7 separate regions of the Homo sapiens genome follow, and regions 1, 2, 3, 4, 5 and 6 are each linked to region 7. The links come from fine-mapping of genetic effects on gene expression. A gene starts in region 7. Each other region holds a variant in brackets. All regions are shown on one strand. Distances are from middle to middle. Region 1 overlaps PMM2 (phosphomannomutase 2). Region 2 holds the start of TMEM186 (transmembrane protein 186). Region 3 overlaps PMM2 (phosphomannomutase 2). Region 4 has its middle 19 kb from the start of ABAT. Region 5 overlaps PMM2 (phosphomannomutase 2). Region 6 overlaps PMM2 (phosphomannomutase 2). Region 7 holds the start of CARHSP1 (calcium regulated heat stable protein 1).

Evidence for each region. PIP is the estimated chance that this variant, and not a neighbour inherited with it, causes the effect.
Region 1: its variant is fine-mapped to the expression of CARHSP1 in whole blood (INTERVAL, PIP above 0.99).
Region 2: its variant is fine-mapped to the expression of CARHSP1 in whole blood (TOPMed, PIP above 0.99).
Region 3: its variant is fine-mapped to the expression of CARHSP1 in gastroesophageal junction (GTEx, PIP 0.97). The same link has a PIP of 0.9 or more in esophagus muscle.
Region 4: its variant is fine-mapped to the expression of CARHSP1 in whole blood (INTERVAL, PIP 0.94).
Region 5: its variant is fine-mapped to the expression of CARHSP1 in whole blood (GTEx, PIP above 0.99).
Region 6: its variant is fine-mapped to the expression of CARHSP1 in whole blood (TOPMed, PIP above 0.99).

What each region holds. Positions count from the first base shown.
Region 1 is chr16:8,814,564-8,818,628 of GRCh38, forward strand. All of the region lies in intron 7 of PMM2 (phosphomannomutase 2), which reads left to right. Among named protein-coding and RNA genes, the nearest start is that of PMM2, 19 kb to the left of the region's middle. RefSeq lists a silencer at 10-109. The variant G/C (reference allele first, on the strand shown) is at 2,334.
Region 2 is chr16:8,796,017-8,800,081 of GRCh38, forward strand. It overlaps TMEM186 (transmembrane protein 186), which reads right to left and starts at 1,623. Exons shown (of 2, transcript NM_015421.4): 1 at 1,596-1,623; 2 at 1-574. The coding sequence starts at 1,598. PMM2 (phosphomannomutase 2) reads left to right here and starts at 1,823. Exons shown (of 8, transcript NM_000303.3): 1 at 1,823-1,932. The coding sequence starts at 1,867. RefSeq lists enhancers at 1,217-1,911, 1,550-1,599, 1,912-2,606 and a silencer at 3,462-3,511. The variant A/G (reference allele first, on the strand shown) is at 2,281.
Region 3 is chr16:8,820,487-8,824,551 of GRCh38, forward strand. All of the region lies in intron 7 of PMM2 (phosphomannomutase 2), which reads left to right. Among named protein-coding and RNA genes, the nearest start is that of PMM2, 25 kb to the left of the region's middle. The variant G/C (reference allele first, on the strand shown) is at 2,235.
Region 4 is chr16:8,653,626-8,657,690 of GRCh38, forward strand. It overlaps a transcript of METTL22 not described here. Among named protein-coding and RNA genes, the nearest start is that of ABAT, 19 kb to the right of the region's middle. The variant C/A (reference allele first, on the strand shown) is at 1,674.
Region 5 is chr16:8,833,774-8,837,838 of GRCh38, forward strand. The region is part of intron 7 of PMM2 (phosphomannomutase 2); the gene reads left to right. Among named protein-coding and RNA genes, the nearest start is that of CARHSP1, 33 kb to the right of the region's middle. RefSeq lists enhancers at 2,144-2,678, 2,679-3,211. The variant A/C (reference allele first, on the strand shown) is at 2,289.
Region 6 is chr16:8,844,098-8,848,162 of GRCh38, forward strand. It overlaps PMM2 (phosphomannomutase 2), which reads left to right. Exons shown (of 8, transcript NM_000303.3): 8 at 3,627-4,065. The coding sequence ends at 3,728. Among named protein-coding and RNA genes, the nearest start is that of CARHSP1, 23 kb to the right of the region's middle. RefSeq lists an enhancer at 2,393-2,984. The variant G/T (reference allele first, on the strand shown) is at 2,468.
Region 7 is chr16:8,867,356-8,871,420 of GRCh38, forward strand. CARHSP1 (calcium regulated heat stable protein 1) reads right to left here and starts at 1,651. Exons shown (of 4, transcript NM_014316.4): 1 at 1,611-1,651. CARHSP1-DT (CARHSP1 divergent transcript) reads left to right here and starts at 1,926. Exons shown (of 2, transcript NR_186721.1): 1 at 1,926-1,973; 2 at 2,258-2,684. RefSeq lists an enhancer at 814-873 and a silencer at 1,014-1,973.

The DNA of each region.
Region 1 (4,065 bases), 53 kb before region 7:
GGTAGTAGAGGCTTGTTACTTATTTTCAGAATGATAAAACTGAAACCCATAAAGGGTAAGGGATTTGCCGAAGGTCACACGGCTAATGACAGAGCTGGTGGCACCAGAAGAAGTCTACCTGTTCTTTGTATGTTTTAAATAGCTTTATTGAGGTATAATTGATCAGCAAAAGCTGTACATATTTAACGCTCACAGTTTCGTGAGTTTAATCATTGTGCCTCTTTGGTTTTGGGGGCGGTTTGGGATTTTTTTGTTGCTATTGTTATAAGAACACTTAACATGAGATATTCCCTCTTAACAAGTTTCTAAGTGTACAATACAGTATTGTTAACTATAGGCACTTCTGTTTGTCCAACAGATCTGTAGAACTTACACATCTTACATAACTGAGACATTACACCCATTGAACAACAACTCTCCATCTCCCTCCTCCACCGCCCCGTCCCTGGCAACCACCGTTCTTTTCTCTGCTTATATGACTTTAGCACCTTTAGATATCTGATACAAGGGGAATCATGCAGTATTCATCCTTCTGTAAGGGGCTTATTCACTCAGTATGTCTTCTCAGTTTACTCATGCTGGCACAAATGGCAAGTTTCCTTATTTTTTAAGGCGGAATAATGTTTCATGGTATGAATACACTATATTTTCTTTCTTTTTTTTTTTTTTTTCTTGAGGCAGAATCTCGCTCTGTCGCCCAGGCTAGAGTGCAGTGGCACCATCTTGGCTCACTGCAACCTCCACCTCCCTGGTTCCCTGGTTCAAGTGATTCTCGTGCCTCAGCCTCCCGATTAGTGGCTGGGATTACAGGAGCCTGCCACCACGCCCGGCTAATTTTTGTATTTTTAGTAGAGACAGGGTTTTGCCACATTGGCCAGGCTGGTCTCGAACTCCTGGCCTCAAGAGATTCACCTGCCTTGGCCTCCTAAATTGATGGGATTACAGGCGTGAGCCAGCGTGCCCGGTCAGAATATACTCCATTTTCTTGATCCATTCTTCTGTCAGTAGACACATGAGTTGTTTCCGTATCTTGGCCATTATGAATAATGCTTCAGTGAACACGGGGGTACAGATACCTCTCTGAGATCCTGACTTCGTCCTTTTGGCCATCTACCCATGGATTAAAGACTTAAACACAGGACCTGAAACTGTAAAACTCCTAGAAAAAAAACATAGGGAAAAAGCAATGATATTTTAGATGTGACACCAAAAGCACAGGCAACAAAAGCAAAACAAACAAGTTGGACAACGTCAAACTAAAAAGTGTCTGCACAGCAAGGGAAATAATCAGAATGAAAAAGCAACCTACAGAGGGGAAGAGAATATTTGCAAACCATATATCTGATAAAAGGGCTAGTATCCAAAATGTATAAGAAACTCCAACAACTCAATGGCAAAAAAAAAAACAATTTAAAACATGAGCAAAGGACTTGAATAGACAGTTCTCCAAAGAAGACATGCAGATGGCCAGTGGGTATATAAAAAAAGGCTCAACATCAGTGTTCAGGGAAATGCAAATCAAAACTACAATGAGATAAACCTCACACCTGCCAGGATGGCCATTTTATTTTATTTTATTTTGAGACGGAGTTTTGCTCTGTCACCCAGGCTGGAGTGCAGTGATGCGATCTTGGCTCACTGCAACCACTGCCTCCTGAGTTCAAGCTATTCTTATACCTCAGCCTCCCGAGTAGCTGGGATTACAGGCGCCCGCCACCATGCCCAGCTAATTTTGTATTTTTAGTAGAAATGGGGTTTCACCATGTTGGCCAGCCTGGTCTCGAACTCATGACCTGAAGTGATCCACCCACCTTGACCTCCCAAAGTGCTAGGCTTATAGGCGTGAGCCACCACACTGGGCCAGGATGGCTAATTTTGTTTTTTTTAATGTTGGTGGCTGGGTGCGGTGGCTCACACCTATAATCCCAGCACTTTGGGAGGCCAAGGTGGGCGGATCACCTGAGGTCAGGAGTTCCGAGACCAGCCTGACCAACATGGAGAAACCCCGTCTCTACTAAAAATACAAAATTAGCTGGGCATGGTGGTGCACACCTGTCATCCCAGCTACTTGGGAGGCTGAGGCAGGAGAATTGCTTGAACCCGGGAGGTGGAGGTTGCAGTGAGCTGAGATTGTGCCATTGTACTCCAGCCTGGGCAACAAGAGCGAAACTCGGTCTCAAAAAGATAAAATAAATGTTGGCGAGGGTGTGGAGAAATTAGAACCCTTGTACACTGTTGTGGGAAATGTTAAATGTCATAGCTATGATGGAAAACTACATAGTGGTTCCTCAAATTAAAAATAGAACTGCCATATGATCCAGCAGTTCCACTTA[G/C]AGATATATATCCAAAATAATTGAAATCAGGATCACAAAGAGATACCTGCTGTTTAAAATAAAATAAAATAAAGACAGGGTCTTGCTGTGTTGCCCAGGCTGTACTCCAACTCCTGAGTTCAAGCAATTGTCCCGCTTCAGCCTCCCAAGTAGCTGGAATTAGAGGCGTGCACTACCACAGCTGGTGATACCTGCTGTTTAAATGAGTGTGCTTTCCACTACGATAAGCTCTCTCTCAGTGGGGTAGAAAGATCTTGTTCTAAATCCCAGATGAACTGGGTACTTTGAAGGAGGTGTAGCATTCAGGTTTGTTCTTAATGACAGTTACATATGGTTTTATAACCACATCCTTTTGTTGAAATGCTTTTGATGCAGAAATGCTTTCAGTGCAGGCTTTGAAAAAGATCACCGTCTGACTTCATGTCTTTAAAAAAATTAAGCTAATGAAATGACACCTAGGATCTAAGGGATGCCCGGAAGCTTCCTCAGTCCTTCTCTAGCTTGGTGCCATTTCTTGTAGACAGAGAGGAGAGCTATTAAGACACACGACAGCAGATTGTTCTGTAATGATGACATTCTTGCTTCATGTAAATAGCCATTTAGAAGCCTCAGTTGGGACTTTGCAGAATGGAATGCAGTTCTTGGATAATCAGAAAATGACTTATTTTGGGAATTCTTCATTTGGGAATTAGAGGGTTTTCTATTCTGTTTAACCATTGCATTACCATGCCTGGATTCTATTTTTAAAATCTTACCTACGTTTTAAAAAATGAGTATTATTTAATGGAAGCTTTCCCCCAATTGTAAATTAACCTGTGCATTCATTATAGAAAATTAGAGAAAGTACGAAGAAGAAAAAGAAAGTCACCTATAATCATCCAACAATGTCCCAGCCTTTCTATGTATATGATCCCAAAAGTGGGATCCTTACATGTTGTTTTAGTTTTAGTTTTCTTTCTCTTAACGTATTTTATTTTTATCATATTAGTGAATATTCTTTGCAAAGAAGATTTTTTTTTTTTTTTGAGACAGAGTCTTGCTCTGTCACCCAGGCTGGAGTGCAGTGGCGTGATCTCGGCTCACTGTAAGCTCCACCTCCCGGGTTCACACCATTCTCCTGCCTCATCCTCCCGAGTAGCTTGGACTATAGGTGCCCACCACCACGCCCGGCTAATTTTTTGTATTTTTAGTAGAGATGGGGTTCACCATGTTAGCCAGGATGGTCATGATCTCCTGACCTCGTGATCCGTCCGCCTCGGCCTCCCAAAGTGCTGGGATTACAGGCGTGAGCCACTGCGCCTGGCGCAAAGAAGATTTTTAATGGCTGTATAATATTCTCTCATTAGGCATCAGTTACTCACCTCCCTTGCAGAGGCACGTTGGGTGGTTTAAGGGGTTTTGCTATCATAACTAATGCTGTGGTGAACATTCTTGCACGATTCTTTGCCCCCATCCCTGATCCTTTTCGTCAGCGGTTTTCTAGAAATGGAAATTAGCAGTCCAGCCATGTAAACCTTCAAACAACCTATCAGTTCTTGAAACTTCAGGTGCAGAGCAATCCAAATACTAGCCTTACACTTTGCATTTTCAGTGATAGACATTTAGAAAGCTGGGGTTTTTTCCTTTCCTAATGAAGTTTGATGTTTTTGCCGGCGTCCAGGGAAGTGATCCTGAGCTGAGGCTGTCAGTAAAAAAGCCATTTCTCAGCCAGGCCCTGAGGCTTAGCAGCCTC
Region 2 (4,065 bases), 71 kb before region 7:
AGCGCAGGGTGACGTAGAAGGTCTGTTTCCCACTGTACCGCTGGATACGCACAAACATCTCCTGAGGCCGGTCCTTGGTTTCTGTCAGGGGAATCACATCTGCCATGGGACAGTATGTGTCCTGCCGCCAGCCCCAGAAGTTCAGATGGGCCACCCGCAGCATGGTGCCAGACTCATTCAGATACAGGATACCAACCAGTCTCCGTAAGAAATAGCTCATCCAGCACAGCATGGTCAGGGCAAAGCCCGATATCCCACTCATGAGGCACACGGTGTTGAGAGTGAGGAGGCCCTGGGAGTACAAGTAATAGCCTGGTGGCAAAGCTACCACTGTCAGGGCAGTCTGTGCCAACTTCAGTCGTGACAGGAACCCGAAGGTTCTGATGGCATCAAAACGGTAAAACATCCAGAATTTCTCAGTCTCTGCGTTTGGTAGTTTCTCCTTCGAGATGGGTGAACTGCTGCCCACCCACCTCTTAGGATCCTCCTGCCCACTGCAGCACCACAGCCCATGGAGAGGCCTTTCCCACACAGCTTTTCCCCGAAACCTACGCACAGCTCGGAGAAGGGCAGCCTGAAAGGGAGACAGTAGACCATTTCTCTCATGGAACTCAACCACATTAATCACACGGTGAACATCTGCAAAGCACCATACTCTAAGGCTTCTGCCAATCCTGCAAGGTAACCGTTATTGCCAGACGAGGGAAGGGTAAAGCCAGATGCTATCTCATGTGGGCATCACAACAGCTATCTAAGATAGTTATCACTATTTCCACTTTACCACTAGGGAAACTAAGCCCAGAGAGGGTAAGATATTTACCAAAGATCACACAGTCAGTGAGTGCAGCAGAGTCCTCCTTCCACCAGGCAATTCCAAATAAATACAGGAAAGGAGGTGCGGCCGTCATTAATTCAAAACATATCCAGGGAGGACAAACTCTGGGCTGGACAATGTATCCACAAGGGGGTGTGAACATTTCCCCAAGCAGGAAACTAAATAATCAGTGTCTTAGTGGGGAACTCGAGCAACAAATCTGTGAGATATTTATTCCAATAAACTTTCTAATTCTCTGTTTGATTCATATGCTATCTTGGGTGCTGGAGGGAACTGCTGCTTTCTCTTAGCCTAGTCTGGGGAAGGGGAAACAGCGGAGAAGGAGAAGGAGCGAGGCAGGGAGGCCCCAACACGTAGCACAAGGGTATTACTAGGTGGGTAGTGAAGCAGTAAAAGCTCTTATTCCAATTCTGGCTCCAACAGTAATTTGTGAGCAAATTACTCCACACCCCTGAGATTCGGTTTCTTCGCCTTTCAAAATGGGGACTCAGAACACAGTGAACCAGAGGATGGTTTCAGAGTCCTCAACTTAGTACCTAATGCACTGTGAGAGCTCGGCGAGTTTTAGCTACTACTACTGTGCGCATGTGACCCAAGGAGGGCAAGAGAAAGCCCGGGAAAAGCGAACTGTAACACACGCCAGAGCTTCCTCCCACGGATCCTCGGAGTCCGAAACCCGAGCGTCGGGCCTGCCCGCCCCAGCCCTGACCCCGACCCCAAAGAGCATCACCCCCTCAAGGCTCGCCACCCGCCTCCTTACCATGGCCCCACCACCTGCTGCCGGAAGTAAATCCCACCGGCCCCCGGAACCCCTAAGAGCGCATGCTCGAATGTACAAGGCGGGCGTGATCTGCGTTGCACCCTGGGAGTTGCGGTCCAGGAATCGTGGCTGCCGCTACTCCCAGGCGTTATGGGAACGGAGTCCCCTCCTCTTCCCGACGTGCCCTGCGACTCAGCGGCCGAACCCGGAAGTTCCGGGCCGAGTTCCTCGTGCCAACGTGTCTTGTAAGGTGCGGCTAGAAACTGGGGACATGGCAGCGCCTGGCCCAGCGCTCTGCCTCTTCGACGTGGATGGGACCCTCACCGCCCCGCGGCAGGTAAGTGGCGGCCGGCGGGCTGCTGGCAGCCGACGCGGAGCCCGTGCTGTTCCCAGTTGGGGCTATCGACCACCCAGGGTAGGCGCCAAGGGGTGGCTAAGGACCGCCTACGTCCTCACGGCGCTGAACCCTATTCTGGGTGCACTGGAGGAATGAGAGGGAGGCCCTAACCAGCTCTTGAAGAGCTCTGGTGCTTGGAAAGATGAGACGGGGCTGAAGAACTCTTAAGAGCAGGAAACTTGTGCTAGGTTGGAAAATGTAATCTGGACTCACCGCTAGTGCTCGGGACTGATAGACCAGGATTTCAACCCAAGATCAGGCCCCCTTATCAGCTATGTGTCGGCCCCA[A/G]TCCTGTAACCAATGGGCTGTGCCGTGAGTCATGATATTAAAAACAGGTTTCCAGGTCAAACCGACCTAGTGGAGTCTCATCTTCACCTCTTGACATCTGTGTGACCTTCAGCGAGTCATTAACCTCTCTGAGCCTCAACATCTACAGCTTTAAATGGGGATGTTACCTGTTCCATATGGTGTCTGTGAGGATCAAATGAGATTGTGTAAGTTCTTGAAAGTATGTTGGACACAACACACTAGGCCTCAGTAAATAGTAGCCACCTCCACCACACCCATCTCCAGCCCCTGCAATGGACTAGGGAGATGGAGGAGCCCTAGGTTATTACAGGCTGCCCGCTGAGAGCCTCTTTGGGCCCTTGGAAACTTGCTTTCCACTTTCAGATTTTGCTGCTACAGGCACAGATAAGTTTCAGTTACGATCAGCCTTGAGGTGAGGCTCTCCTGGCCCCTTTTCAGAAATTGGCCACTGAACACTGGCCATTTCAACTTGAGACTGGACCCCAATGGTCTCACTATCCTCAGCTTCTACCCTCACCCCTCATAGTTTTCGCTTGGTGGTAACAATGGTGTGCTCCAGAAGTCCAGGTCAAATGCGTGTGACCTTAGACGTATCATTTTGCCCTTCTCAGCCACAGGTTTGATTTACCTAGTGATGACGCTCAACTCCCAAGTTCTTCAAAGGCTTTTTCTGATTCTGAAATTCAGTGATCACACACTTGGGTTTGTTAAAAGCCCATAGTGGTCTAAAACTCCGGTCCCCAATTCATTTTTTGTAAAGGGCCATATAGCAAATACTTCTCTGTCTTTGCTGACTATGTGGTCTATAGTAACCACTCAACTTTAGTGCAAAACCAGCCATAAACCCTATATAAATAAGAGTGGCTGTGTACCAATAAAATTTTATTTATTTATTACAAAAACAAACAGCTGCCCAATGTGGTCTGTGGGCCATAGTGGTCTAGGGTTTACATTGCCACCCTTTTTCATATCACTGAACCCTCTCAACCTTCCTCCATCTTTCTTCCCAGGTAGGATAGTTGTTATTACCGTTTTAAACATAAGGAAACACACTCAGTGAAGAACTAACCTCCTCAGTTTCACACAGCCAACCTGGTACAAGTCTCTGGGCCTCAGGATATTGGTTCCTGTCAAGTTTGCCATTTCCTATCTGTGCTAAGGTGGAAGCTGTTCTAGTCACTGGGTATGCCATTCAGGAAAGTGCTTCTGATTTTCTGATTTTCACAGTTCTGACTCTTTTTTTTTTTTTAAGACAGAGTCTCACTCTGTCACCAGACTGGAGTGTAGTGGCCCAATCTCAGTTCACTGCAACCTCCACCTCCCAGGTTCAAGCAATTCTCCTGCCTCAGGCAACCAAGTAGCTGGTGCTACAGGCAGGCACCACCACGCCTGGCTAATTTTTGTATTTTTAGTAGAGATGGGGTTTCACTGTGTTGGCCAGGATGGTCTCTATCTCTGGACCTCGTGATCCACCCGCCTCGGCCTCCCAAAGTGCTGGGATTACAGGCGTGAGCCACCGTGTTCTGACTTTTAAAGGCCACTCCTCCAATTCTAGATTCTGTCTAATAGGTCCAGATTCCACTGTGAGAGTAGAAAAGATTGCACTCTATTACAAACCCTTCTGTACAATTTTAATCACATTCATGTATTACTCTAAAAAAGTTTTTTAAAGAAAAATCATTGAACTCCAAGTGTTTATATACTGAGGTTGAATTAAATGGTTTTTTGTATTTTCTAAATTTCTAGTAAAAAGATATTCAGCCG
Region 3 (4,065 bases), 47 kb before region 7:
GGGATTACCGGTGCCCACCACCACGCCTGGCTAATTTTTGTATTTTTAGTAGAGACGGGGTTTCACCATCTTGGCCAGGCTGGTCTTGAACTCCTAACCTCAAGTGATCCGCCCACCTTGGCCTCCCAAAGTGCTGGAATTACAGGCGTGAGCCACCACTCCCGACCACAGTTGCTCTTCTGAAGGAGTCATATGAGAATGAAGTGAAGGCATCTGAGGAAAGTGGGTGACGCAGGGCCTGACTCAGGAAAGGCAGCTGGGACATGCATCTTTGGCCTGGTCCACAACCAGCGTCTGCTTCCTTCACTTTCTAAGAAAGTTATTCAAAGGCTCATCTGTTATTGAGATTTTCCTAAGAGATTGGAGCCTGCCAAGTCCCTCAGTGAAGGGCCATCCTTGTGAGTGAGCACCTTCCTACACACCTTCCAACAGTTCATTAGAGCGTGAATTAGTGAACCATGTCCTCCTGTCCTCAGGTTCCAAGTTAGGCTTTGGATGGCAGTTGGCCTTTGCGATCCTGGACTTAACCATGCCTAGCATCTGTAGCTCTTTCAGGACTCAAGGCTAAGGAGGGCACAGAATGGATTCTGTGGATAGATCTGTCTTACTACTTATTGCTGGGACCACATGATTTGAGACCCAGGTCTTCTTGTGTGGCTGGTGGCAGACTTAGCTTCTTAACATGTGAGTCCCTCACTCCTGGAGGGACCCTGAGTGAATTGCCGCTCCCACAGTCAGCTTCCAGAACTGACTGGCAGAAATTGATGAGAGGTTCTCAGCCTGGTGGAGATGTCCCACCCGCTCCTGTGTGGGAGGCCAGGAAGCAGGGTGTCATGCATGGGAGCCACGAGCTTCAGATGTTCCTGCTAGCCCACCTTCCTCCTGAGTGCCAGACTCCACAGAGTCCATGGCCCTGGGTGTTGGTCCCAGGAATAGGACTGTGGCTAACAACCAGCCCACAGAGTGAGCATCCCTGCCTGTGTCTGTGCTGAAGCTCTTTCATTCAGGGAGACACTGGCTTCAAACCCCTGGAGTGGGGCTGGCCTTCCAGGGAGCCCCTTGATGTCCGCAGAATCGGCATCTCCTGTGGGCATTCCAGGCCCAGATCCGTCACAGAGCTGTCTCCTCTGCCCTTGAAGGCCGGAGAGGTGAAATGAGAGGGCTGTGCTCAGAGCCGTCAACAGACCCAAGGGTCACTCGCCCTAGGGCCACTAGCCCCTTGGCCAGCTCAGGTTCCACCCTCGCCCCCAAGCCAAGGGGTGTTTTTTCCTAGATTCTAAGTCACTGGTGCTCAGCCCTGGATATATATTGGAATCACCTGATCACTTTCAAAACATCATGACCCTGGGCTTGGGCCATGCCCCAAACAAGCATTTTTAAGGCATCCCCAGGGACTCTAGCCAGGGAGAGCCACTACTGCTCTACGCCATTTCAGAGCAGGCTCTTGTCTCATTGGCCCTGTAACTGCCCAACAGGTTCTCCTTGCCCACTGCCTAGACAAGAGCCGATTTATCAAGACAGGAGAGTTGCAGTAGACAAAGGGTAATTCACGCAGAGCTGGCTGTACAGGAGACTGGAGTTTTATTATTCCTCAAATCAGCCTCTCCAAGAATTTGGGGATCAGAGTTTTTAAGGATAACTTGCTGGGTAGGGGCTTGGGAAGTGGAGATTGCTGATTGGTCGGCTTGGAGATGAAATCATAGGGGGTGGAAGTGAGTTTTTCTTGCTATCTTCTGTTCCTGGTGGGATCAAAGAGCTGGTTGAGCCAGATTACCTGTCTGTGTGGCATCAGATACTGCATCAGAACACAGGGTCTACAAAATATCTCAGGCACAATCTTAGGTTTTATGACAGTGATATTATTTTCAGGAGCAATTTGGGGAGGTTCAGACTCTTGTAGCTAATTTGTTAGTCCTACAAAGGCAGACTGGTCCCCAGGCAAGAAGGGGGTTTATTTCAGGGAAAGGGCTGTTACCGGCATTGTTTCAAAGTTAAACTATAAACTGAATTCCTCCCAAGGTTAGTTTGGTCTGCATCCAGGAATGAACAAGGACATCTTGGAAGTTAGAAGCAAGATGGAGTCATTTAGGTCACCATCATAATTTTCTCAGTTAAAATTTTTGCAAAGACAGTTTCAGTTCCTCCTGTTGGGTTTTATAATACCTTATTCCTAATACTTCATACTGTGGGATATGAAGATGGGAAAAGAGTGATAACCGCTCTAGCTTCTTTCT[G/C]CTGACAGGGAGCGTAGTCAGGGTAGGTGTTGACCCAAAGGTAGGAGGAGTGAAACCACTTTGCAGCTGTCTGCTTCTACTCAGGGGTTCCTGGTTAGGGTTTGAAGGCCTGCATGACAAAGGCATTAGTATTCTCATCTATAGTTTTAACAAATGAGTCCTAGGATAAAGAGTGAAAGTCCTGGCTTCAGAAGCTTTTGTAGAATTGATCCTAAGCTCTGAGGGACCCAGGTAAATAGCTCCAAGAACCAATCAGACATGGGGTTACTAGCAGAGAGAGATTTGGGTCAGAGGTTGTTAGACAGACAGATTGGGGTAGACAGGAAAGAGGAAATTTAAATATACTCATCCTTATCTTTTTAGTCAGTTTTCCTAGTCCTAAGACTAGATCAGTTCAGTTAAACAGCTGTTTCCATTATCAAGAGATGGCACTGGAGATGGGCTAGGCATCTTTAGTTATAGAGGAGGAAGGCAGTGGCAATTTGACATGTTTTTGTCATCTGTATTACAAAGAATAAGCTTCAGCTTGCAGGGCCTCAGGAAAAAGGTAGTAGCAATTTAATTGAGTCCAAGTCAGAAAAGTGGGAAAAAAAAATTGAAAGCATTAGTTTGGGAATTGTAGCCCACAGAGAATTCAGGATTTAGTCCAAATTGCAGGAAATAATAAAAACTCAAGAACAAAGGACAAGACTAGAATCTAACAGCAGGGTGTATCATAGTTTTTTGAAACACTTTTTTCCCTCTCCCATCCTTATTTTTATTAAAGACAAACCGTAGTAGGACAAGTTTACTTGCAAAATAAGTCATAGTCTTATTAAGCTTGGCCTGATTATTTGTATAAAGTAAAGCAAGAATAATTGTTTGCCAGATAGGCTGTTTTTAAAATTGGCTTTGCTGAAACTTTGTTCCATAAGAAATCTCAGGTTAGACTTTTTTAAAGCCTCGAGCCCAGCCATGGATTTATCTACTATACCTGCAAAGATAAACCTGTATGAGTTGGGTGAAATTTTTTCTTCTCATGGTCCTAAGATAATTTGGGGCTCCTGGGCCTGTCAAAAAGTGACGGTCTTTATTTACCACAGTTCAGGAACCCCGTACAGGGACTGTGTAGACAAGGTATGAGGCCAGCTTTTCCAAGGGACTTCTATTGGCTCTGTTAGTCAACTTTGTTCCTTAAAGCAGTCTGTTTATATTTGAAAGTATGTCGTACCAGTCAAAGCCTTGGTAAAGTAACCGGCATCTCTAATTGTATCCTATTACAAAAGAAAACAGATTGTTACTGCCCTTGCACAAATAATTATACTGCCATAAGTTGAGAATACTCACAAATAGTTTCCAAATTCTGGAGAAATCAGAGAGAAGGCAATATGCTCTAAATTTTGCTCACAGAAGTATACTTTAACTCAATTGTTAAAGTTGTAAATAGCTCAAAAGAAAAATAGTTTTCTGGACTCTGAAAAACAAAAGGATTAACAATGTTTAACACATCAGCTCTCCATGAGGATCCTAGAAGTTTTTTTTCCTCCATTCCAATGGCACAATTTGTAAAGTTATCAGAGACCTGCATTCAAGAGTACCCATTAGAGTACTATATCTGATTATAAACTGCCTTTTGAAAAGGATAAAACCAAGACAGCAACTGCCTGTGGGTAACAAAAGTCTCAGGACAGCCGTAGTTAAAGATGCAGTCAACAAGGAAATCTGGTCATCTCTGTGACACACAGTTTAACAGAACAGTTATAATTATTACTCATAACATATACTGAGACGTATCAGAATTATAGGAGTCTTACACAATTTTGTAACACATACTAATAACATAGTTATACGA
Region 4 (4,065 bases), 210 kb before region 7:
TGAAGTGGATCTTGAATTGGTTTCCCATGGGAAGGATTTGGAGATTTTAAGTGGCTGAGTGGTAATGATTAAAATCCAACTTTATTCTAAAGCTACCATACATAGTAAAGCCTTAATTAACTAAGACTCAGTTAGTTAAACCTGCTTCCCCATCATTTCCAAGGCTCAAGCTACTGAAACGTTTCAGTAGGACCAGGACTTAGAGACAGGAACACTGGGACCATCTCCTATATCTAAACACCTGGGTAGTGAGAACCCAGGAAGAAGGATGATATCAGGGAAGAATTTTGTGGAAAGCCTGACTTCAGAACCAAGCTCAATGTGGGAAGCTGAAATTGCAGTGACCCATGAGTACACCACTGCACTCCAGACTGGGTGTCAGAGCAAGACCCCATCTCAAAAAAAGAAAAAACAGGCTCAAGCAAAATGGGAGATCTCAGAGGATCGAGATGGTGATAGCCAACTGTCCTAAACATTTTAGATACATTAGCTCAGTAAATATCCCTCCACTCACGTGAGGCCCCACTTCATAGATGGGTAAACTAAGGAGGGAGTAGGCAAGGGGGCCAGGTAACTCTCCCAAGGTCACATAAGTTGTGAGGGATAGAGCCAGGCTTTGAACCTGAGAAGTTTGGCTTTATAGTCTAAGAATTTATCCCCCAGGCTCTTCACCACTCCTGGTAATTTGCTCATCATCACATAACTTATAAATGGCAGCTCTAAGGTATGTGTTTATAGGTGGAAAGTTACATACCACATGGTTAACCTTGATTAACCCCAGGGCATGGAATTGGGGGAATGGAATTGATGAGACTTTGCCCTTTATGTTATATACATGTATTTTGTTTTTACAAACATGGGTTATTTTTGTGTCTTTTTTACTAAAAATAAAGTTAAAAGAAATTAAGTACATGTGCACACATGCACGCATGCATACACACACAGCCAAAATGCTACTCTCTAACAAGAGCTGTATTTGAAAACAGATAGATCAAGCCAAGCTTTTGGGAAATAAAATTTATTTTAGCCCAAAGGTTCTAGAAAGACTCAGAGAAAAGTTCAGAGGGCAAATCATCCCTTGGGTGGGTCTGGGGCTACAAGACCCTGGGCTTGGTGCTCCTCCAACTGAGCCTCAGAATGCATAGAATGAGACTATGCCAGGCTCATCTGAACTCCATGTTGTCTGGTTCCCCAGTGGGAAATTTGTCATGTCCAGACCCAGGGGAGTGTGGCCGTGATCTGTACTAAAGGCTGAAGTTCCACCATAAGTTTTATCCATGTTTCTAGCCCATTACATTTTTACAGAGAACGCTAATGGACATAGCAGCAAACTGAAGGTGGACATAAATCCAGCCACCATGTGGGAAGGGAAAAAAGGGAGTAACTCAAACCTGCTGGGCCTCTTCCCAATAGTTAGAAGACTCTAAAATAAGCCAAGCCCTGTGTGGGGCATTGGGGAAAGGAACTGTATTATCTATTTGCTGCATGACAAAATACCCCAAAACTTAGAAGCTTAAGACAACAAACATTTATTATCTTACAGTACCTGTGGGTCATAAATCTGGGCTTAGTTTAACTGGGTGCCTCTGTCTTAAGACCTCTGCTAAGGCTACAAGGAGTTCAGCTGTGGTCTCATCTGAAGGTTCAACTAAGAGTGGATCCACATTGAGGCT[C/A]CCTCTTGTGGTTGGTGGCAGGATTCAGTTCCTCACCTGCTATGGGTCTAAGGGCCTCAGTTCCTCACTGGCTGCTGACCACAGACTTCTCTCATTTCTCTGCCATGTGGGCCTCTCTAGGGGGCCTCTGATAAAGCCAGGACATGACAGCAGCTTTCTCAGAGCAAGCATACAAGAATAGAGAGAGTTTACTGGGAGGTAACCTAATCTGAGAAGTGACACTCCGTCACTTTTGTCACATTCAGTTCTTCAGAAGTGAGTCACTAAGTCCAGCCCACACTCAAGGGGAGGGGATTACACAGAGTGGGAATACCCAAAGGTGGGATCACTGGGGACCATCTCAGAGGCTGCCCACAAGAGAGATGCAAAGGACACATCCTTGCCCTGAAGAGGCACTGAATCTGGAAGGAAGTGGGCAAGCCCGCCAGCATTGTGATGCAGAGATCGTGTTCTCATACCCACAGCTGATGTCCATTGAGCACCAACTTCCATCCAGGTGCTCTTCTAAACAAAGCCGTTCAATCTATTATCCACCTAAATGTGCAAACTAAGATTTATTTCTGAGGCATTTGGGGGATTCAGGAAGAGGAGAGGGCTGAGGGTGATGCCTAGCTTTCTGGCTTGGAGGACTGTGTCTTCTGACAAGACATAGTTCTTGAAGACTCACCACCATGCCCTCCACCAAGGTAAATTCTCCTGATGACCACATCTTTGCTCTAACACAGTGTTCTCCAAAGTATGGCGAGTTAGGATACCAGTGGTATGTGGCAGGTTTTTGTTGTTGTTGTTTTAGAGACAGGTCTCGCCATGTTGCCCACTGGAGTGCAGTGGCTATTCACAGGCATGAGCATAGTGCACCACGGCCTCGAACTGCTTGGGCTCAAACAGTCTTTCTACCTCAGCCTCCCAAGGAGCTAGGACTACAGGTGTGCACCACTGTTCCTGGCGCAGAGAGGTTTTAAGAGAAAAGCATTTTGAAGTTTATCCTATTGACATGTATGTAGCAGGATGCCACTTCCAGGGATTAGTCCTTTCCTCCACCCCCACTTCCTAAATGATTTTATTTGTACCCTGAGGGCCTTTTCCCCACTTCCCCCACAGACCTGCGTGAGTAGACCTCAGGCACCAACTGCACAACTAACTATTGGAGAAGCAAAGATTAAGCTCCAGCACAGCCACTAGGCAAAACCTGGGACACAGGGATTCTAATGTGAACTTGCAGAGTAAGATTCTCTGCTTCTGAGAAAACAGCTGTGTGGGCTGTGAAGATGGGAGAGGAGGTTTGAGACTCCAGTTACCTCAGCAGGAGAGCAGCCAGTCCCTGTCACTCCACCTTCATCTGCAGTGAGTGATGTTCCAGCAGTGCTGGCCTGGGCTGGGCTGTGCCCTGCGGCTCCAATGCCCTCCTGACAACCCAGGAAGCTGTCTTACTCCATTTTGTGCTGCTATAACAGAACACCACAGACTGGGTAACGTAATTAACAGAAATGTATTGGCTCACAGTTCTGAGGCTGGGAGGTCCAAGAGCTAAAGGCCAGCATCTGGCAAGGGCCTTCTTGCTGCATGATAGCACAGCAGAAGGCGCCACATGGTAGAACAGTAAAGAGAGGATGAGAACGAGAGAGAAGTAAACATGGGTCAAACTCGTCCTTTTATAAGGAACCCACTCCCGAGAAGACAAACCCACTCTGGTGATAACAGGATTAATCCACAGAGTCCTCTTGCCCTAATCACCTCTTAAAAGTCCCACCTCTTGATACTGTTACAATAGGAATACACTTCATCATGAGTTGTTTGGGAGGGAACAGACATCTAAACCACAGCTGAGCCCTTCTTACAGCAAGATAAGAGAGGAAGATGCCACTTCAGGGAGGATCGATGTCATTACAAGACCTCACAAAACCTGTTTGAAGTCACCCTCCAAGCTAGTCCAGTTGTTGAACCACACCATCATGCCCTGTTTTGTGTATTCTGGGAGAAAAATGTATCTTGCATTTGAAAACCAGGGACATGAAGGATATTATTCTCGGTTGAGGCTAAGTTAATAATTTGTGCGTAGTTAAATACAATATTAAGTAATAATGTAAGTGGGAAGCAGGAATAGCAAATGTCACAAAGATGGTGATCTTGGGGGCTGAAGTTTGCAAAACACCAACAATAGCTTTGCCTGTGGTTTCAGCCTTTGTCCTGTCCCTCTTTAACTAAAGGCAGGAAGACTTGTCCCCCATAAAACCAGGTTCCTTTTCGTCTACTATATGGAGTTCAAAACAATTTCAGTCAGTCCTGAGAAACTGAAGACAAAGGATGTTTTCCACCTTTTTGAAACTATAGTGGGTTGAATGGTGGCCCTAAACAAGCTATGTCCACGTTCTAAACCCCAGAACCTATGAAT
Region 5 (4,065 bases), 34 kb before region 7:
ATAAAAGGTCTAAGAATTGGGAGGACCTATGACATCTGATTAGAGAGTGCCTAAGGAGATTCAGCATAGTCCTGCCAGCAAAGATTATTTATTTACCTCAAGAGTTTAGAGTGGCAGTTTGGGGATAGCACCAGGAGATATCAGCTGTGATGGCTTGGAGAAACAGTGTAAACCGGCAGTGTAAACAAGAGCAGGGCATGTATGAGTAGTTGAGAATGGCGAATAGGAATATGACTAGACAGGAGATAGTAGGGATGACAAGTTTTGGGGGGCACAGTCTAAGTTGGTCTGGTGTCTGGAATGAGACTGGGGCCTAATAAAAAGGAGCGTCTATACAGGAGCTTACATGGGCTGTACCTTGTAGCATTCTGAGGACAGGCCTGAATTCTGAGAAGGGAAAGTGGTAAAAGTATTGTCCAGTCCTTTTTAAGTTGGAGGCTGAGCTTGGTGAGGTGTGTTTTTAAAAGACCTTTAGTCCATTCTACCTTTCCTGAAGATTGAGGACTGTAAGGGATATGAAGGTTCCACTGAATACTAAGAGCCTGAGAAACTGCTTGGGTGATTTGACTAGTAAAGGCTGGTCCGTTATCAGACTGTATAGAGGTGGGAAGGCTAAACTGAGGAATTATGTCTGACAGAAGGGAAGAAATGACTGCGGTGGCCTTCTCAGACCCTGTAGGAAAGGCCTCTACTTATCTAGTGAAAGTGTCTACTTAGAGTAAGAGGTATTTTAGTTACCTGACTCGGGGCATGTTGAGTGAAGCTAATTTGCCAGTCCTGGGTGGGGGCAAATCTTCAAGCTTGATGTGTAGGGAAGGGAGGGGGCCTGAATAATCCCTGAGGAGTAGTAGAATAGCAGATGGAACACTGAGAAGTTATTTCCTTGAGGATAGATTTCCACGATGGAAAGGAAATGAGACGTTCTAAGAGGCGGGCTAGTGGCTTGTACTATAGCATAGCCTGCCTTTGCTGCTATGTGGCGATTAGGCCTGGTGGAACCGCCATCAATAAATCAAGCGTGATCAGGGTGAGGAACAGGAAAGAAGGAAATATGGGGAAATGGGGTGAATATCAGGTGGATCAGAGAGATACAGTCATGGGGGTCAGGTGTGGTATCAGGAATAATGTGGGAGGCCAGATTGAGGTCCGGGCCAGGAACAATGGTAATTGTGGGACTTAACAAAGAGTGAGTACAGCTGAAGGAGCCGGGGAGCAGAAAGTATATGCATCAGGTATGAGGAAGAAAGTAGATTTTGGAAGTTACGAGAAATGTAGAGAGTGAGTTGAGCATAGTTTGTGATTTTTACGGCCTCTAAAAGTATTAAAGCAGCGGCAGCCGCTGCACGCAGACATGAGGGCTAGGCTAAAACAGTAAGGTCAAGTTGTTTGGACAGAAAGGCTACAGGGTGTGGTCCTGGCTGTTGTGTAAGAATTCTGACCGCACTAACCATGCCTAGGAAGGAAGGGAGTTGTTGTTTTGTAAGGGATTGAGGTTTGGGAGATTAATCAGACACGATCAACAGGGAGAGCACGTGTGTTTTTATGAGAATTATGCCGAGATAGGTAACAGATGGGGATGAAATTTGGGCTTGACTGAAGTAGTGGGGGCTGTCTGTGAAGCCTTGTGGCCGTACAGCCCAGGTAATTTGCTGAGCCTGATGGGTGTCAGGGTCATCTAACTGAAAGCAAAGAGACGCTGGGATGAAGGGTGCAAAGGAATAGTAAAGAAAGCATGTTTGAGATCCAGAACAGAATAATGGGTAGTAGATGGAGGTATTGAGGACAGGAGAGTATATGGGTTTGGCACCACGGGGTGGATAGGCAAAACAATTTGGTTGATAACGCGCAGATTCTGAAGTAACCTGTAAGCCTTGTCTGGTTTTAGGACAGGTAAAATGGGGGAATTGTAAGGAGAGTTTATAGGTTTTAAAAGGCCATGCTGTAGCAGGCGAGTGATAACAGGCTTTAATCCTTTTAAAGCGTGCCATGGGATGGGACATTGAGTGGGGTAAGGGTGATTAGGTTTTAATGAGATGGTAAGGGGTGCATGATTGGTTGCCAAGGAGGGAGTAGAGGTATCTTATACTTGTGGGTTAAGGTTGGGGGATACAAGAGGAGGACACAAAGGAGGCTTTGGATTGGGAAGAAGGGCGGCAATGAGATGTAGCTGTAGTTCAGGAATACTCAGGGAAGCAGATAATTTAAAGTGTCTCGGCCTAATAAGGGAACTGGGCAGGTGGGGATAACTGAAAAGGAGTGCTTAAAAGAGTAATGTCTAAATTGGCACC[A/C]GAGTTGGGGAGTTTTAAGAGGTTTAGAAGCCTGGCCGTCAATACCCACAACAGTTACGGAGGCAAGGGAAACAGGCCCTTGAAAAGAAGGTAATGTGGAGTGGGTAGCCTCCGTATTGATTAAGAAGGGGATGGACTTACCCTCCACTGTGAGAGTTACCCGATGCTCGGCGTCCGTGATGGTTTATGGGGCTTCCGAGGGGATTGGGCAGTGTCAGTCTTCAGCTGCTAAGCCGAGATCTGGGAAGGAGTCAGAGAGCCTTGGGCCAGAGTTCCAGGGGCTCTGGGGAGTGGCTGCCAGGTGAGTTGAACAGTCTGATTTTCATGGGGTCCCGCACAGATGGGACGCGGCTTAGGAGGAATCCCGGGCTGTGGGCATTCCTTGGCCCAGTGGCCAGATTTCCAGCACGTGTAGCAAGCTCCTGGGGGAGGAGGTTCTGGAGGAACGCCTGGCTGCTGCGGTTCAGGCGTTTGGAAGTTCTTGTGTGCTGGAGATGTGGCTGGGGTTTGTCTCACAGTGGAGGCAAGGAATTGCCACTTTTTTCTATTACTGTCCACCTTGAAGGTGAGGTTAGTTAAGTCCTGTTATGGGGTTTGAGGGCCAGATTCTAATTTTTGGAGTTTTATTTAATGTCGGGAGCAGATTGGGTAATAAAATGTATATTGAGAATAAGACGGCCTTTTGACCTTTTAGGGTCTAGGGCTGTAAAGCGTGTCAGGGTTGCTGCCAAACGAGCCATGAACTGGGCTGGATTTTTATATTTGATGAAAAAGAACCTAAACGCTATCTGATTTGGGATAAAGAAAAAGGAGCATTAACTTTGACTATGCCTTTAGCTCCAGCCACCTTTTCAAGAGTAAATTGCTGGGCAGGTGGGGGAGGGCCAGTCACAGAATGAACTGTAAGCTGGTCCAGGTGTGAGGAGGGGAGGTGATAAAAGGATTATAGGGTGGAGGAGCGGAGGCTGAGGAAGAATTGGAACCTAGCTCAGCCTGGCGAGGAGGAGAGGTCAGATGGGTCTGTAGAAAAGGAATATTAGAAAGACTCAGCGACGCTTGGGGTTGCGACTGAGGGGACAGGTGGGAGGGAAAGAAGGAAGATTTGGGACGAGTTGCACTGGGCACAGAGACTAGGAAGGGACTGATGTGTAAAAGAATGCCTGGACATCAGGCACCTCAGACCGTTTGCCCATTTTACGACAAGAATTATTTAGATCTTGTAGGATGGAAAAACTGAAAGTGCCGTTTTCTGGCTATTTGGAACTACTGTCGAGTTTGTATTGGGGTCAAGTGGAATTGCAGAAGAAAATAAGGCATTTATTTAGGTTTTAGGTCAGGTGTGAGTTGAAGAGGTTTTAAGTTCTTAAGAACACAGGCTAAGGGAGAAGAAAGGAATGGAAGGTGGAAGCTTGCCCATAGTGAAGGAGGTAAGCCCAGAGAAAAGAGTAGAGACACGGAGAAGGGGTGGGGGGTTCTTGCCCTCCAGAAAAGCAGAGAAGGGGTTGGGGCACGGAAATAAGGGATTGGGGCACAGAGATATAAGAGATTGGGGCGCAGAAATAAGGGATCGGGGCGCAGAGATACATGGGGTTGGGGTACTTACCCCTCCCCTAGAAAAGCAGAGAAGGGGTAGAGACACGGAGAGAAGGGGTTGGTGTACTTGCCTCTCCGCCAGAAAAGTGGGACTTGCCGCTAAGGGTGAAGGACCAAGGCAGGCGTCCCTGCATGGTCTGACACCTTTGAAACGTGGGTAAATAATCAGGCGTCCCTGCAGTGA
Region 6 (4,065 bases), 23 kb before region 7:
AAAAATTGAAAGTGCCGTTTTCTGGCTATTTGGAACTACTGTCGAGTTTGTATTGGGGTCAAGCGGCATTGCAGAAGAAAATAAGGCATTTATTTAGGTTTTAGGTCAGGTATGAGTTGAAGAGGTTTTAAGTTCTTGAGAACACAGGCTAAGGGAGAAGAAGGAGGAATGTAGGAAGGTTGCCCATAGTGAAGGAGGCAAGCCCAGAGAAAAGAGAGCGTAGAGACATGGAGGGAAGGGGTTTGGGGGTTCTTACCCTCCAGAAAAGCGGGAAAGGGGTTGGGGCATGGAAATAAGGGATTGGGGCACAGAGATACGAGTTTGGGGTACTTGCCTCTCCCCCAGAAAAGCGGGACTTGCCGCTAAGGGTGAAGGAGAAGGGGTTGGGGGGTTCTTGCCCCTGCCCCAGAAAATCAGAGAAGGGGTAGAGACACGGAAAGAAGGGGTTGGGGTCCTTGCCCCTTCCTCAGAAAAGCGGGACTTGCCGCTAAGGGTTATGGACCAAGGCAGGTGTCCCTGCGTGGTCTGACACCTCTGAAACGTGGGTGAATGATCAGAGGCGTCCTTGCAATGATTAAACACCAAGGGAAGGCTGCCTTCCCAGTCCGTGACCGGCGCCGGTTTTTTGGGTCCACAGATAAAACGTCTCCTTTGTCTCTACCAGAAAATGAAAGGAATTGAAATTAAGAGAAGGGAGAGATTGAAGTGTGGCGCCTAGATTGAAAGGAGAAAGACGGTGAGGGATAGGGAGGTTGGAGAAGAGAGTAAAAAGAGGCTGCTTATTGGATTTGAAATTGGTGAGATGTTTCTTGGGCTGGTGGGTCTGAGGACCTGAGGTCGTAGGTGGATCTTTCTCATGGAGCAAAGAGCAGGAGGATAGGGGATTGATCTCCCAAGGGAGGTCTCCCGATCTGAGTCACGGCACCAAATTTCATGCGCGTCCATGTGAAGAGACCACCAAACAGGCTTTGTGTGAGCAACATGGCTGTTTATTTCACCTGGGTGCAGGCGGGCTGAGTCCGAAAAGAGAGTCGGCAAAGGGTGGTGGATTATCATTAGTTCTTATGGGTTTTGGGATAGGCGGTGAAGTTAAGAGCAATGTTTTGCGGGCAGGGGTGGATCTCACAAAGTACATCCTCAAGAGTGGGGAGAATTTCAAAGAACCTTCTTAAGGGTGGGGGAGATTACAAAGTACATTGATCAGTTCGGGTGGGGCAGAAACAAATCACAATGGTGGAATGTCATCAGTTAAGGCTATTTTTACTTCTTTTGTGGATCTTTAGTTACTTCAGGCCATCTGGATGTACACGTGTAAGTCATAGGGGATGCGATGGCTTGGCTTGGGCTCAGAGGCCTGACAGTAGGTGTTCTAGAAAGGTGTGTTGTGTTAATGTGTGAATACTGACTCCCCTCCTCAGTCACTGAGGCGGGGAGGGTGTTTGGCTCTTTTGAGGCATGTGAGAGTTGGTTGTGCCTTTGGTTTTTTGTTTGTTTTTTTTTCTTTTGAGTCTCGCTCTGTTGCCCAGGCTGAAGTACAGTGGTCTGTTCTTGGCTCACTGCAATCTCCGCCTCCCAGGTTCAAGTGATTCTCCTGCCAAGCAGCTGGGATTACAGGTGCGCACCACCACACCCAGCTAGGTTGTGCCTTTGTTAGGTTCTCTGTGACTTTTACCCACTGTGCCATTCCTGAAAGAAATCTTTTTTTTTTTTTTTTTAATTAGAAGAATTACTGGAACTAGCTTGGCACTGTTGGACACAGTCTTTGTCTCAGCTACTCGAGAGGCTGAGGCAGGAGGTTCGCTCGAGCCCAGCCTGGGCAACATAGCAAGACCCTATGTCCGAAGGAAAAAAAAGGCAAAATCAGAATTACCAGAACTGATTTCACATGTGTAGGTAGCAGATGGTGGCCATGCAATTCAGGTCTGTCTGAAGGCCCCCAGGCCTGGTACAAAACTGTGTAAGGCCAGTACAAGGCCCTGACAGGTTCCCAAGTGGCTGGACTGGAAGAGATGCCAAGTTCATGGCCTCCTAACCTGACTCCACCCAGCACTCCCTGGGCCCAGCGACGTTCCCTCCTGAAGCCTGAAATTCACCTCCACCTGAGGAGGCCATCTGCCTGGGGATAGGTTCTTGCAAAAATGAAAACACTCATTTCCAGAGGCAATTAATTCTTTTAAAGGATGTCAGATTTTTGGTACAAAATCATGGTTTCCACGTTGGCTTCATGCTCGGTGCTTTATGAGAAAAATCCCTTTTTTCTACGGTTGTGTTCATTGTATTGTAAAGCAATCGTAGATTATTTTAAGGTTTTGAGTTAGAGTGATTATCCAATTTTATGAGGGAAATAAAGGAATTCCATGAGAAAAACGGGGGCTTTCCTGCAGGGCTCGGGGTTGCGGGAGCGGCAGATAACCTGATTCATTAACGTGAGCCCAGTGGGATTGGTGGGGGTGATGGGGACACAGAT[G/T]GGAGCACTCAACTCAGGCACAGGACCCCAGCAGAACATGCCCAGGTCCTCCTAGACATGGGCCCTTGCAGACTTTCTGAGGCCTCGGTTTCGTCATCTTACCAAGGTGTGACCCCAACCATCATCTCCTGAACTTCTGGCCACAGAGCTGTGAGCAAGCTTCCATCATGACCCCATTTTGGAGATGGGGAGTTGGCGCAGCCACACTGCTGCTCAGTGGTAGAACCAGCATCTGACCCAGGCCACCTGTTCCAGAGACCCTGCTTTTAGCCAGCAGCTCAGACCCCAGTCATGTGGGGCCATTTATTTATTTATTTAAGATAGAGTCTCCCTTTGTCGCCCAGGCTGGAGTGCAGTGGTGCGATCTCGGCTTACTGCAACTTCCACCTCCCGAGTTCAAGCAATTCTCCTGCCTCAGCCTCCCGAGCAGCTGGGATTTCAGACGTGCGCCACCATGCCCAGCTAATTTTTGTATTTTAAGTAGAAATGGAGTTTTGCTGTGTTAGCCAGGTTGGTCTCAAATTCCTGACCTCAAGTGATCCACCCTTCTCAGCCTCCCAAAGTGCTGGGATTACAGGCATGAGCCACCATGCCCGGCCCACGTGGGGCTGTTTAAATTAAAATCAAATTAACTGAGTTCCTCCATTGCATTGGCCACGTTTCAAGTGTGCAGAGTGACACATGGCCAGTGGCTGCCATCACCGCTGATGTCGCCACGTCCCTCATCACAGGAATATCCCTGGCAGCCCTGCTCCCGGCCCTCTGCCCTCCTGACGCTCCCTTGTGACTTGTTAGAAAAGCGTAGGTACAGCTAAAAAAAAAAAAAAAACTGATGGCTGTGAGAATACTGTCACTCGCTGATGCCTTCTGTGTAGAAAAATAAGCCTTAGACAGATCTTCGCAAGAACATCGTGATGGCTCTCATAGGCATAATTACGTGTTCCAAGCCAAATTGCAGTTCAAGAGAAGGTTATAAATCTCTTCTTAATAACAATTGTACTCACGTTCCTCTCCTGGAAACTAAGAGGAAGGTAGCTGAAGAAACTCTCCCTGCCCAGTTAAATCTTGTTTTTTGGGTACTTTTGGACTCCAGGGTCACATCAGCAATGGCCCGGGACAGACGAGGGGGAGCCTTCATCTGTACTTCGTGTCTTTCCAGGGTGGCAATGACCATGAGATCTTCACAGACCCCAGAACCATGGGCTACTCCGTGACAGCGCCTGAGGACACGCGCAGGATCTGTGAACTGCTGTTCTCCTAACGTGGGAGCGGGAGGGGCGGGGTCCCGGCTGACAAGCCAGCATAGGGCATTCGGTGGCCAGAGCCGAGGGTCCTCCCACACGTGCTCACCCACCCGCAGCCTAGGCAGGCTCTGCATGCTATGCCAGGCATGTGCAGTCTGGACTTCCACCTCCAGTGCCAGAAACTTCCAGAAGGAAGGAGAAAACTCTTGTCAAGAATGGCCCAGAGGAATGCCTCGCACAAAAGGTCTTCCCCACCCACCCCCAGCCCCCTAGTCTAATACCCACCCTGATACGTGCAATCATGTAGTTTTGGCGGAAATTTCCCCATCATTCTAGGATGATACAGAAAGAAAA
Region 7 (4,065 bases):
GCTGCGTCGCAGGGCTCGGACGCTGTGCAGATGGTGCCGCGAAAATGCCAAGCGCACGGCGGGCTCAGTCCACAATAGTGCGGCTGATGGTGGAAGTGTCAGGCACGGGCCCATCTGAAATCACCTTCCCTCCCATTCCTGCCCCTGCTGATGGAACACAAACCAAATGCGCTGGCTTTGCCACTCGGTGGAACAAAGACCGATCCCCTACCTAGGGGACCCACCGTCAACCACCCTCAACCCCACCCCATGGCCCCACGCCAGGCCTAGCTCAGCTCATTGAAAACATCTACTCCCAGCCGGGCTCTGCGCCTCTTTCTTGCCCTGAAGGGACCAGCATCGAGAACTCACGGTCATCACCGAGGCCACCCAGGGAGTGCAGAGGGCGGTGGGGTCTCCAAGGAGGACCCCGAGCCCAGAGGAGGGCCAAAGGCCCGAAGGGAGGGAGAACAGAGGCAGAGAGAGGCTGGAGAAGGTAGTGGCGGAAGATAACAGGAAGCCCTGCTGAGAAGTTGGGGACTTAGACGACAATGGGACTTCGGTGGACGATTTTCAGCGTGGGGTAGATCTAAGCGGATTGTTTTTCTAAGTTCCCTCTGGCTTCAGAGTGGCAGCAAATGACAGGGGCAAGCAAGACTGGGCACAGAGAGACTGAGAAATATCAAAACAGCAAGTTAAAAAACAGTAGCTTACGTGTCTCCCGGCACGGGGCTAGCTGCCTCCTTTTACTCTCACACACCCTCTCATGCCAGAAGAAGTCAGAGCCCAGTCTGCAGATGGGGAAACTGAGGCTCCGAGAGGCCTCCTATTTGGCAGAGATTTCCCCACCTATTAAGACCCAAGGCCCTGCCTGGAGCGGGACGTCTCCGCCTCCCCCAGCACACACATCCACTCCAACCCCAGAAAACCATAGGGCCGGAGGCTTCCTTTTTAAAAATCAAAAAAGAACATTTCACTTCCGGCCTGCAAACCTGAACCGCCAGCGCAGCCTGCGGAAAGGGGGCCTGTGGGCGCGGGTGAAGTTTTTCTCCAGCGCCTAAGGCACCCCCACCCCCATCCGGGCGCAAACACCCGGGCCCAGCGCGCCCGGCGGCTCCTCCTCCCCCAGATGCGGCTAATCGCGCGGCGCCAGGACGGCTCCCCACCTCCCCCGCCGGGCCTGGCCGCCGTCCCAACCTCGAGCCACAGCTGGCGCGGCCAGGCCCGGCGGGGGGTGGCTCTGCTTCCCGCGTGCGACGCCCCCCGCGCCTCGCCCCACCGCCCGGCGAGTCCCCCGTCCAGGGCTCCCGCCCAAAGGCAAAAGCAGCGGGGAGGGCGGGAAGAGCTTCCCCTGCACGCAGAGAACAGGTGGCCAGGCGGGAAGTACTACCCGACGTCCGCCTAGAATCCTTGCCGCTGTTGCCACACCCACCCCTTCCCCTGGGGAGGAGCAACCCGCGTTCCCCAAACAGGCCCCGAGAAACCCAGCCCGGAGCCCTCCTCTGCCGAGCTAGAAGACCCTGCAGGATGGGGGACGATGGAGGCAGAGGAGGCCGAGGCCCCACCCCTGCGGCTCCCGGGGCCGCGGGCCAGGGGCGCCTATCCTGGGGTCCCCGAGAAGAGCTCCCTACCCTGCAATCCGTTCTGCTCCGCCAGCCGCTTCGCTCCGACTGAGAGCGCGGAGCTGGGGAGGGGGCGTGGCCCGAGGGGGGGTGGGGCGCCGATCCCCGCCCCCAGGAGCTCCCGGCCAATGGGGCTGCGGGAGGGAGCCCGGGACGGTGGGGGCGGGCGGGGCGGGAGTGGCCCGGACAGGACCTTTGTGTCCGCGCCTTAGACTGGCGGGAGAGCGGAACGCAGAGCGCGGGACGTAGGGGCCGGGGCGGGGCGGGGCGGGGCGGAGCTGGGCTGCACCCACCAGCAGAAAACGCCCCTGCAAAGTGGGGGAACTGTGTCCCTGCGCCCGTGCAGTTCCTTCCCCTCGCCACGCGCGCCAGGTGCGGCTCCCACCTGCCTTTGGCTCTAAAATCTGTATAATCCCGGAGGGTGTCACTTTTAGCAGAAAGGAAATAAAGGAATGAAAAGAGAGACGGAAGAAAACAAGCAAAAAACAGAAAGGAGGAAAAGGGAAAGAAAAAATACACACGCACACACACACCAGAAAAACAGGGTTTTGTTTTCTCGTTGGGGATTTTGATTTTGTTCTCTTCTCTTGTTTCATTTCTAGCCTTCCTTGAGTCCTCTGTTTTTGGAGGTAAAAAATGTTACCTCTGTTTTGCAGGAGAGGAAACTGAGGCACAGAGAGGCGACCAGCCCATGGGCACGGCCAGTCGAGAGCAGCCCCTGAAGGCGAGCCTAGATCCCGGGACCAGGGTCAGCTTGGTATTTGAGGGGCGCGGGGAAGGAGAGAGGTCCCCGGAGCTCGCCCGGGACAACAGGGCCCCCGGAGGCGGCGGTGAGGACTGTGCCTGCCTCACTCTGCAGCCCCTATTGGGGCCACTGGGGAAAAGGCCCAGCAGCGAAACCAACTAGTCCAAGCCAGGCAAGGAACCGTCCTAGACGGCTGGTGGGAACAACCGCGCAGCTGCTGTGGAAAAAGCCCGGCGGTTCCTCAAACCACGAGCCCTGGAGTCTCCATAAAACCCATCAACTCCACTCCTAGGTGTCTGCGCGCCCAAGAGAAATAAAAATGTTTGTCCACACAAAAATTTACTTGAGGCCGGGTGCGGTGGCTCACGCCTGTAATTCCAGCTCTTTGGGAGGCCGAGGCAGGAGGATCACTTGAGCTCAGGAGTTGGAGACCAGCCTGGCCAACATGGCGAAACCCCGTGTCTATGAAAAATACAAAAATTTGCCGGGCTTGGTGGCGGGTGCCTGTAATCCCAGTTACTTGGGAGACTGAGGCAGGAGAATCACTTGAACCCGGGAGGTGGAGGTTGCAGTGAGCCAGGATCATGCCACTGCACTCCAGCCTGGGCGACAGCGAGTCTCCGTCTCGGGGGGGAAAAAAAGTTAAAAATAAATAAATAGGCCGGGCGCGGTGGCTCACGCCTGTAATCCCAGCACTTTGGGAGGCCGAGGCGGGCGGATCACGAGGTCAGGAGAACGAGACCACGGGGAAACCCCGTCTCTATTAAAAATATTAAAAATTAGCCGGGCGCGGTGGCGGGCCCCTGTAGTCCCAGCTACTCGGGAGGCTGAGGCAGGAGAATGGCGTGAACCCGGGAGGCGGAGCTTGCAATGAGCCGAGATAGTGCCACTGCACTCCAGCCTGCCTGGGCGACAGAGCAAGACTCCATCTCAAAAATAAATAAATAGATAAATAATGATTTACTTGTTGGGCTGGGCGTGGTGGCTCACGCCTGTAATCCCAGCACTTTGGGAGACCGAGACAGGAGGATCTCTTAAGCCCAGGAGTTTATGACCAGCCTGGACAACATAGTAAGACCCCTTCTTTACCAAAAAAAAAAAAGTTTTAATTAGCCAGGAGTAGTAGCACCCACCTGTAGTCCCAGCTACTGGGGAGGCTGAGGTGGGAGGATCCCTTGAGCCCAGGAGATCGAGGCTGCTGTGATCCGTGACTGCACTGCTGCACTCCAGCCTGGGTGACAGAGTAAGATTTATAGCAGTATTACTCATAGTAGCCAAAAGGGAGAAACAGCTCAGATGTCCATCAAGTGATGAAAGGATAAACAAAATGTTGTGTATCTATACAGTAGACAACTATTCACTCATCAACAGGAATGAAATCTTGATGCAAGCTACAACATAGAGGAACCTTGAAAATATGCTAAGAGAAAGAAGCCACACAAAGGCCGCACTTTGTGTGATTCCATCTGTATGAAATGTTCTGAATGGGCAAATCTCTAGAAACAGGAAGTAGATTAAGGGTTGCCAGAGGCTGGGGGTGGGGGTGCGGGCTAGACGGTTGATACTTAAAAGGTACAGGGGTTTCTTTTTGAGATGATGAAAATGTGCTGAAAGTGATGGTGGCGATAGTTGCACAAGTCCGTGGATATACTAAAAATCATTGCATTGTGTGCTTTCAATGGGTGAACTGTATGGTGTGTGAATTATGACTCAGTTAAG